Homo sapiens: one gene and its partner. Each later gene encodes a partner of the first gene's protein in a complex. Each region holds a gene or a part of one and is shown on either strand. Other genes may lie near its edges.

What was found. Proteins that work in one complex are often made in the same cells at the same time.
Region 2: the proteins of CTBP1 (region 1) and RAI2 are in contact, whole or in part, in a cryo-EM structure (PDB 8ARI), measured with the Homo sapiens proteins. Residues at the interface, in NP_001319.1 of Homo sapiens: Arg36, Cys38, Met42, Val51, Ala52, Phe53, Cys54, Asp55, Gln57, Gln60, Glu61, His63, Val66; in NP_001166210.2 of Homo sapiens: Glu315, Ala316, Leu317, Asp318, Leu319, Ser320, Met321, Lys322, Trp326.

The regions. Positions count from the first base shown.
Region 1 is NC_000004.12:1,225,094-1,232,141, reverse strand, and holds part of CTBP1 (C-terminal-binding protein 1), read left to right. Parts: exon of another isoform or gene 1-1,034; intron 1,035-3,798; coding exon 3,799-3,943; intron 3,944-6,575; coding exon 6,576-6,782; intron 6,783-7,048. UniProt on the Homo sapiens protein: Corepressor targeting diverse transcription regulators such as GLIS2 or BCL6. Has dehydrogenase activity. Involved in controlling the equilibrium between tubular and stacked structures in the Golgi complex.
Region 2 is NC_000023.11:17,799,501-17,802,298, reverse strand, and holds the end of RAI2 (retinoic acid-induced protein 2), read left to right. Parts: intron 1-264; 5' UTR 265-288; coding exon 289-1,881; 3' UTR 1,882-2,250; downstream 2,251-2,798.

The DNA.
Region 1 (7,048 bases):
AGCCTAGGAGGTCAAGGCTGCAGCGAGTCATGATTACACCACTGCAGTCCAGCGAGGTCCTGTCTGTAAAATAAGTAAATGAAAAAGTTTATATATTCAAAGACTCCTCCCAATCAGTAGAAACAGAAAAATCCCGACAGAAAATGGATGAGGGCGGTGGCGTTTGGTACAGACAGAGCGGTGTATGAGAACCGGGGTGCGCCTCCTGGGTTCTCACAGGTGCAGCAGGCACCGCCGGTAACCCCTGGCCTGGCCTGCGCTGAGCCCTGCACCAGCCGTGCTGAGGGAGCCTGGGCCTGGCCCTTCATGTGGGATAGAAACGGCCGTGCCGGTCTCGATGGTGCTTTGGCAGTTTCTCTGGAAATCTGAAACCTGCGGTCTTCAGCCCAGCCCCACCCTGGGCCTGCATGTGGCTGCGTGTCGTAGAGAAACATCTGCCCTGATGGTGACCTGATGTGAGCAGCAGTTTCACAGAGTAAGCCACCCCTGTGCACGAGGTCTGGAAAGGTAAGTGCGACGTCGAGTCCTGAGCACAGAAGCAGGTGGCAGAACTGCATGGCAGGAGGTGGGCTTGGCGGGCCCCTTCCTGACCCCCAAGAGCCAGCTGCCACCAGGAGCGTCCTGGGGTCTGTTTCCAGCCCGGTGGCAGCCGAGCTTCCTGGGCACCCAGCTTTCCCCAGCCTGCTCTGAGCACTGGAGTTGAGGGCACTGAGCAGAGTGGGGCTGAGCCCCTGGCGGTGGAGGGGACACATCAGTGGGTGTTGGCTTGAGGTGGTTTCTGGGAGGCTGCTGGGCCCCGATCTAAAGGGACACACCTGGCTGCACCCACCTCCTGCAGACTTTCTCCGTGGGAGACCAATGCAACAGGCGGGGTGGAGCAGCCACGTGGCAGCCACGAGGGGGAAAGGAAGGTAGACCCTGAGGCTGAGCCGCTGTGGCACCCTGGCCTGTGGACCTGTGGATGACGTGGCCGCCACGTGGTAAAGCGCACATGCTAGCAGCTGTGGCCCTGCAGCTGAGCACAGGCCAACCTGGTACGTGGTGGAGGTCGGGGCATGGGGTGCCCCAGCCATGTTCAGATTCCTGTAGTGAGAATGCTTTCACCTAATACTATGTTGTTAAACCTGTATTCAGTAGGGAAAAGGGCAAGGACCTGAAAAAAGTGTATTAAGAATCGTGCACAGGCAAGTGATGAAAGCCTCGTCGGGGAGGCAGCTTGCGCTTCACAGCTCAGCTGGGTGGGCGCGCCCGGAGCCCAAAGGAGGGCCCTTGGCCGGCGCACGCTTCGGCTTCTCCGAGCTTACCTAGATGAGATAGATTTTCATCACGGAAGAGCCGATGCAGGAAGCAACCTTAAGGCTGCGCGGATGAATATTCGTCATATTCACGTGAATCTGATCGCTGTCTCCTCCGAATGTGCGGGAGGTGACGTGCCGCGGTTCAGAATCGACTTTTCGAGGCCCGTGGCCAGTGCTCCGGGTGAAAGCAGGCTGTTGCCTGCGTACACACAAGCCTGTGTGGTGTGGGTCTGTCCAGCCTGTCCATGCCGAGCCTCTGCACACACACTGTGGAAGTGGCCCCTGCACATCCAGCTGCCCAGGCCAGCCCCCCGGGCTCACGTCTGGCACCAGGCCTGTCCCTGACCCCAGGGCCCATCTCCCACTGCGCCTCTGCCCACCGCTCGCATGCGCAGCCCCTCCTGCCCACAGTGGGTGCCGACGAAGCTTCATCTGCAGGTGACTCTCTCTTAGCTGCGGCTGCTTTGCCAGGCTGCCCGAAGCACCTCCTTGGTGTGTGGGCGCCCATCTCCAGTCCACGCAGCGCAGGGGTCTTCCTGGCCGCACCGCTCGCCTCCACCACAGCTGTGCACCAGTCGCCCACTGCTGGCCTCTGCCTGCCCATGCTGTCCTTGTGGCCTCACCCCGTCCACACTACGTCTGGTCAAGTGTGGTACACCAGGGTTCACCCCGTCCACACTGCATCTGGTGCACCAGGGGTCACCCCGTCCACACTGCGTCTGGTGCACCAGGGGTCTGCATGCATGCAGCCTCAAAGCCCTCCCAGGAGGCCCGGGGCAGCCATCAGCCCTGTCCATGAACTGATGAGTGTTACACACACCTGTTCCTCTGTGGTCCGGGTAGATGCCTCCCTGCCTCCTGCAGCCGAGGTGCTCCAACCTTCCCTTCTTCCTGGAGAATGCCCAGGCTAGCCCAGGGCTCCCCTCCCCTGCTGCCCAGCCTCTGCTGTGGCCCTGGTCTGTGTGGTCCTCCATGGTCCTCTCCTCTAGGTCCCCTGCGGTGGGCAGGAGGGAAGGGAGGCTGTGCCAGCCTCAAAGGGAATCATCTGTTCTGGCTAAGCTGGAGGTCCGGGCACTGTAGGAGAAGGGGTTGCAGCTGGGTGGTGAGCGTCTTCCTGGGGGCTGCCCTCACCCTGCCCACGTATGCCTGCCCAACACCAGCTGCTCTGCCCAGGACCCAGGCAGGGTCAGCTCCCACAGGACGCCCTGCGGTCCAGCAACCCAGGCACTGCCGCCCGGGATCCACAGGCTCCATGCTCGGCAGGAAGGGAGGGAAAGACGCCACCTAGGCCCCGGCAACCTCTGTGCTGAGCCTGCGCCATTGATCCGTCAGGAGTACCTGGGGCCCCGCTGGACAGGTGGTGGGTGGGAGTCATGTCCACATGGGAGGCTCACTGGTGTCTCCGGGGACTCGGACATGCCCATGTGGACGAGGCCTGCATGTCCTGGTGTCCTCAGCCACGGCTGTTCGCACAGAGCATCTCTGCACCCGTGGGTGGGCGTTGTCATGCACGGGAGTGTGGGATGGACGTGTGCGGGTGGATGTGTTTGGGTGTGGGTGGATGCGCAGGTGGTGCACACACATCCCCACCCTGTGCCCAGTGCTGCACCTGGTTCTTCGGCCTAGGGCACTTCCTCCACCTGTGTGCCTCTGCACCCCACACTGCCCCTGCCCTCCCTGGGCTGGGGGTAACTGGGAGCCCTTGGCAGGGTGGGGTTGGCCGTGACCACAGCGATGCCATGTACTGGCTGAGTGGAGGCGCCAGGGTTGGGCTGCTGTGCTGTGTGCCAGGTCTTTGTTCGCGGGAGCTGTTCCGGTCTAAGAGTTGTCATGGACACTGAAATTAAAAACGTGACTGTTGTGAACACTGCTCAGACCCAAGCCTCGCCAGCCAGGGGCAGCATTTCTGGGCAGGTTCTTGGGCGACACGGGGGCAGTGCATGCTCCTGTGGATGTATCCTTACGGCTGGGTGGCGTCTGCCTGCCTCCGCCGACGTGCTTGTGTGCCGCGGGGACTTACCACTTTCTACCTGCATCCCCGGGCCTGCAGGTCTCAGGTTCCCTGGCCACCCCACCCAGCTGCACCTGCTCAGTGTCCTTCCTGGGTGTGGCCGCACCCCCCCTCCTGTGTCCTCGCCAGGCGGGACCCCGTTTCTTCCACAAGGCTGAGCAGAGTCTCGGTGGGGCGCACGCTCAAAAGGAGACATCTCAGCCACCACAGTGGGGAGCGGGCAACTCTGACCAGTGCCGGCCTGCAGCCTACATGCGGCTGAGGAGGCTGCGGTGGGAATTGCTGGGACTCAGGACGCCTGGGCAGAGGTTGAGGGGCCGCGCGTGGCGGGGAAGCCTTCATGTAGCCTCTCCCAGTGTCCGGGCTGGTGCTTGGGGAACAAGCCTGAGGGCCACAGGCTAATTTCCCAGCCGGGGCAGCCCCACCCCCGAAGGCCAAGCCCGAGGGTCTTCAGGTTCCGGGCTGAGCCTGTGTGCTTTCTCGCTGCAGGTCCTGAACGAGGCTGTGGGGGCCCTGATGTACCACACCATCACTCTCACCAGGGAGGACCTGGAGAAGTTCAAAGCCCTCCGCATCATCGTCCGGATTGGCAGTGGTTTTGACAACATCGACATCAAGTCGGCCGGGGATTTAGGTAGGCCGGCTCCGAGTTCTCTCCTGTGCCCATTCATGCAAGCTCCGTCCCGTCTTGCTTCGTCCATGGAGGCTTCACTGCCACACTGAGGACCCCGTTGCACATTGCCTGGTGTGGCTGGCGGTGGTTCGTGGTCCCGTCTGGGGCCGGCATGAGGTTGCAGCCATTCAGTTCCTCACAGAGCCTCATCTCAGGGCACTTCCTCTCTTTTGGGCAGCAGGAAATCCAGCTGTGGCTTCACACAGGTCTGCATGCATGTCTGGCTGGTGCCCCTTGCTTGGGTACTGGGACCCTGGGGGTGAGGGCAGGGCCGTCAGTGTATGGCTGTAATAGGGCTCATAGGTCTCTGTCCCGAGACACAGCGGGAACAGCAGCGTGTTGCAACCCAGTACGTGTGCACTCAGCACACAGAACACACACGTCTGCACCTGTGCACTCAGCACATGGATCACGCACACTCAGCACACAGAACACACACGGAACACGCACATCTGCATCCGTGCATGTGCACTCAGCACATGGAACACGCACACTCATCTGCACCCATGCACATGCAGTTAGCACACGGATCTTGCACACTCATCTGCACCCGTGCACATGCACTCAGCACACGGATCACGCACACTCAGCACACAGAACACGCACATCTGCAGCCATGCATGTGCACTCAGCACATGGAACACGCACACTCATCTGCACCCGTGCACATGCACTCAGCACACGGATCCTGCACACTCATCTGCACCCGTGCACACGCACTCAGCACACGGATCACGCACACTCAGCACACAGAACACACACAGAACACGCACATCTGCAGCCGTGCATGTGCACTCAGCACATGGAACACACACACTCATCTGCACCCGTGCACATGCACTCAGCACACGGATCACGCACACTCATCTGCACCTGTGCACACGCACTCAGCACATGGATCACATGCTCATCACACAGAACACATGCACCTCTGCTTGTGCACTCAGCATATGGAACACTCATGGAACACGCACGTCTGCACCCGTGCACCTACACGCACATGGAACATGCACATGTGTCTGCATCCATGTACAGACACTCATTAGAACAAACTTGGGGCGGTGCTTGGCCGTCCTGCTTGGAGCGCACTTTCTGTTTTCTGCCAGGCTCGGTCTGTTTTTTCTCCTCCTCTCGATGCTGGTAACAGGCGAGGTTGTACCCTGCCCTTGCCCACAGTTGGCCAGCGCCTCACGGTTTTGCTTCCCTTTTCCTAGGATACAGTTTATGGCATTGCAAAGTTGGAACCGTCTGTGTTCCTGCGGGGGACGCAGGTGGTGTCGGAAGCCATGCCTCCATCTGGGGGTCTCCTGCACTGGCTTCAGCTGCTTCCGCCGGCGCCCATGGGCCAAACCTGTGTGCCAGCCTCCTCCCGCCTTTGTCTCTGTGGTGGCGTCCCAGGAAGGGCCGGCTGCGGTGTCGGGTGCAGGCCTGGGTGTGTGGTGTCGGGTGCATGCCTGGTGCTTTTTGAGGGGTCCCTGCTGTTTACCATCTCTGTTACCCGTGGAGTTTCCCAGGCCTGGGCTCTGTTCTTCAGCCAGGGATGGTCTGGGGCACCCCTGGGATCTGGCCCACCCTCAGGAGGTCTTTGTTCCAATCTCGTGTGGCGCCTGGCTTGGCTCTCCCTCAGTCTCCCTTGTTTAACATTTTTACGTCCAAGTGAGTTGTGTCTAGGGGCTATGCAGCCCCTGCCTGCGCCGCCCCACATCAGGCCCTCTCCCGGCCCCCGGGACCCCTTGCGGAACCACACGGTCCTGTCCAGCTTCCGGGCCTATGAATGCAGCCCTGTCCTGGCCTCCTGCCCCCTCCTCCTCCCCAGGGAGACGGATGGCCAGTCGGACACAGGAATGCAATCATCCGGATGGGGTGGGAAGTGCCGTGCAGGGGCGGCCCTGGCCAGGGACAAGCCAGGGATGAGGGTAAATAGGCTCAGGGAGGGGCACTGGCTGGGGAAGGGCCTGTCTCTGGGGACAAGGCCGGGAGCGGGGAGTAGGGGTCACACATGGGCGTGCCTGGCCACTCGGGAGAAATGGGATGGACTTGCTTTCCAGGAATGGCTCCAGCTTCAGTGTTACCGACTGCAGGGGTGGGGCATGGAGGGCGGAAGGGGCTTCGGGGCCCGGCTGGGCCTGGGGGAGGCCTGAGGACATGTGCGGATGTCCACGTAGGGGTGTGCAGGCGGGGCCGGCACCCAGATTCTGACCTGGCCACAGCCTCCCAGCAGGGTACCCCCGAGAGGAATCGGGGTGGCGAGGTGACGCGGGGAGACACGTGCTTGTCTCTTCCTGGGCTGCCAGCGCTGAGTCGGGAGGGGTCAGGGCAGCGTCTCACACCCCAGCCCTACCACACACCGAGCAGTTGCCGTGTGTGTGCTGCCACGTGAACCTAAAGTGGAGGTGGGGCTCCTGGAGTTGCTCTGTTGCGCCCGACCTGTGAGCAACGTGTTCATCTCGTGGCCTCCCGGGGTGGCCTTGGGGACACGGCCTTTGGCTTCTTCCTTGGGAAGCTTCAAACCCGCTCCAGTCACGGCGGCCCCGGTGTCCTCCCGGAGGCTGGGCCCGGCCCGGGGGTGACCGCCGTGTCCTTGTCCCCACAGGCATTGCCGTCTGCAACGTGCCCGCGGCGTCTGTGGAGGAGACGGCCGACTCGACGCTGTGCCACATCCTGAACCTGTACCGGCGGGCCACCTGGCTGCACCAGGCGCTGCGGGAGGGCACACGAGTCCAGAGCGTCGAGCAGATCCGCGAGGTGGCGTCCGGCGCTGCCAGGATCCGCGGGGAGACCTTGGGCATCATCGGACTTGGTGCGTCGGCCGCAGCTCCACGCCTGTGTCCCTCCCTGTGTCTGGCGCTGCCGCTCTTCAGCTGTGCCCAGGAGGAGAGGCCCGGGGCGGGGTGGGGCTGCTGCAGGTGTCGGTCCCAACCCAGGACAGGACTGAGTGCGCACAGGCACCAGGGCCCGGGAGTCCCAGGCGTGTGCCCTACGTGCACGGACGTCACAGCACACGTGGGTCTCACACAGGCACACACAGATAACGTACACGGATGCCACAGCACACACAGCCTCACA
Region 2 (2,798 bases), on another chromosome or scaffold:
ACCTCACTTGGCTATTTACTGATTACATCATCTGCATTTATAGCTTAATCATCTGTTAAATTGGGGTTCTCCACGCACACAGGATCATGTGGTTGTGTTTGTATATATTAGGAGATATCTATAACCTGAACATATACATAGAGAGATGGGTTATGCTCCCTGGTTAACTAAAACGTGGAAACTTTCTAAAGATGTGAGAGAGCTCTTAAGGCAATTATAAATAGTCTTTTAAGGAAGATTCATATTGTATGTTCTGTGTTGCAGGCCAAGTGGCATCAGAGCTGAGTGATGGACGACCTGCAGTCCCAGAACCTCTCCATGGACATGACTGACTCCCCTCCTGCCTTGGCTAATAACAGACTGGAGAATGGCATGGCTCAGCTGATCACCACCGAGGCCTGGAACATCAACTCCACTGACCTGGTAAAGAAGGCCCTGGTGACCGTGCCAGCCCCATCCATTCTGAACCCCCCTGCCGAGTCTCAGAGTGGCATGGCTCTGAAGGTGGCGGCCACTGTGTTGCAGCCCCTGTGCCTCGGGGAGAGCCCAGTGGTGATGCCCATTCACATGCAGGTGGAGGGAAGCTCCGCACCAGAGCTCAATCCGAATGGCAATGCCACCTACGTCATGACCACCCAGGGCCCCGTGCAACTGCCCGTGGTGCTGGAGCAGCACGTCTTTCAGCACCTCAACTCCCCTCTGGTCCTGCCGCAGGAGGCCCCATGCTCCTCCAGTACCATCCACAACAACCTCTTCCAGGGAGCGGAGGACCCCGAGGCCCAGCCCCAGCTCCTGGACCTGAGGATCCCCAGCCAGCCGCAGGAGCCCACTTTGCCATTTGAAGCTGTGCTCCAGAATTTGTTTCCCTCCCAGGGCACTCTCGGGCCCCCACCCTGTCAGCCTCCTCCTGGCTATGCCCCTGTGCCCCCACAGCCTTTTAGCTCCCCCTTGTCCCCCCTGGTCCCACCAGCCACCCTCTTGGTGCCGTATCCTGTAATCGTCCCCTTGCCTGTGCCAGTCCCTATTCCCATCCCCATCCCGATGCCTCAGAGTTCTGAATCCAAGTTCAGCTCCAGTTTCCCCAAGCCACCATCTTCCTTCGGCCTGCACCCCTTTAAAGGCACCCAGACCCCTCTGGAAAAAGATGAACTGAAGCCCTTTGACATCCTCCAGCCTAAGGAGTACTTCCAGCTCAGCCGCCACACGGTCATTAAGATGGGAAGTGAGAACGAGGCCCTGGATCTCTCCATGAAGTCAGTGCCCTGGCTCAAGGCTGGTGAAGTCAGTCCCCCAATCTTCCAGGAAGATGCAGCCCTAGACCTGTCAGTGGCAGCCCACCGGAAATCCGAGCCTCCCCCTGAGACACTGTATGACAGTGGTGCATCAGTGGACAGCTCAGGTCACACAGTGATGGAGAAACTTCCCAGTGGCATGGAAATTTCTTTTGCCCCTGCCACGTCCCATGAGGCCCCAGCCATGATGGATAGTCACATCAGCAGCAGTGATGCTGCTACCGAGATGCTCAGCCAGCCCAACCACCCCAGCGGCGAAGTCAAGGCTGAAAATAACATTGAGATGGTGGGCGAGTCCCAGGCGGCCAAGGTCATTGTCTCTGTCGAAGATGCTGTGCCTACCATATTCTGTGGCAAGATCAAAGGCCTCTCAGGGGTGTCCACCAAAAACTTCTCCTTCAAAAGAGAAGACTCCGTGCTTCAGGGCTATGACATCAACAGCCAAGGGGAAGAGTCCATGGGAAATGCAGAGCCCCTTAGGAAACCCATCAAAAACCGGAGCATAAAGTTAAAGAAAGTGAACTCCCAGGAAATACACATGCTCCCAATCAAAAAACAACGGCTGGCCACCTTTTTTCCAAGAAAGTAAATAACGGCTTTTTAAAATTTGTATGATTATAATATGGGGAAAGGTGCATTGGTTTTATAAAAAGGCATTTAAAACAAATTATCTTTGTTAATTATTTTGGGGAGTAGTTGGGAAATGGAAAGGTGAATTGGCTCTAGAGGCCCTGTATGCTAGTATCATTTTCTTTTTTAATTTTTGACTTTTCACAAATGAGTAAATAAGAGCAACCTATTTTTCAAGCAGATTGCACATTTTTTGCAGCTTTAATGGAATATTGGGTGAATTAGAGGGGTAAAAAAAGCTATTTTCATTGCCACAAAGTGCTTTGATGATGTAATACCTAATAAAGGGTAGGATGAATATTTCACAATAAATGTTTGTTTGCACTAATTGGTTGCAGTATTTCATCATTTATAAAATTTACATTCCTTAACTGGCATAATTTGGCCAAAACTCTTGCTTGTGAAAAGCTGTAAGTTATCTGTGATTAGAGACCTAAGCTTTTCAGGCATATTGGAAAATATTGCCCTATGCCCCAGTAAAAGGAGGGTTAGGAATATGGATGACCTTGAGCAAGTCATTTCCCACTTTGGCCTTGGGTTTTTTAAATTTCATTTGTAAAATAAATAAATAAATAAGTGGCAAAGAAAAGGGACAGCGAGGTGAGTTTCAAGTGCCTGAGGCTCCTTCCAGTTCATATAGTTCTTGGGTGTGTAGAATTCTGTGCCTGGACCTTCCATAGTGTAAGACAAGACAAATGTCTCACAACAAAAAAGTAACCTGCTTCCTTCCCACCAACCAAAAGTTTAGTTGGAAATGCCCTTCTTTTCAAGGGCAGTAAGAGCATTGTTCTCAATGATTGAAAATCTTGCAAGTCAGAAGTAGTGGCGCAGGCTAGTGGATCAAGAGATGGCTCATACTTTTTCCCAGCCTTGGAT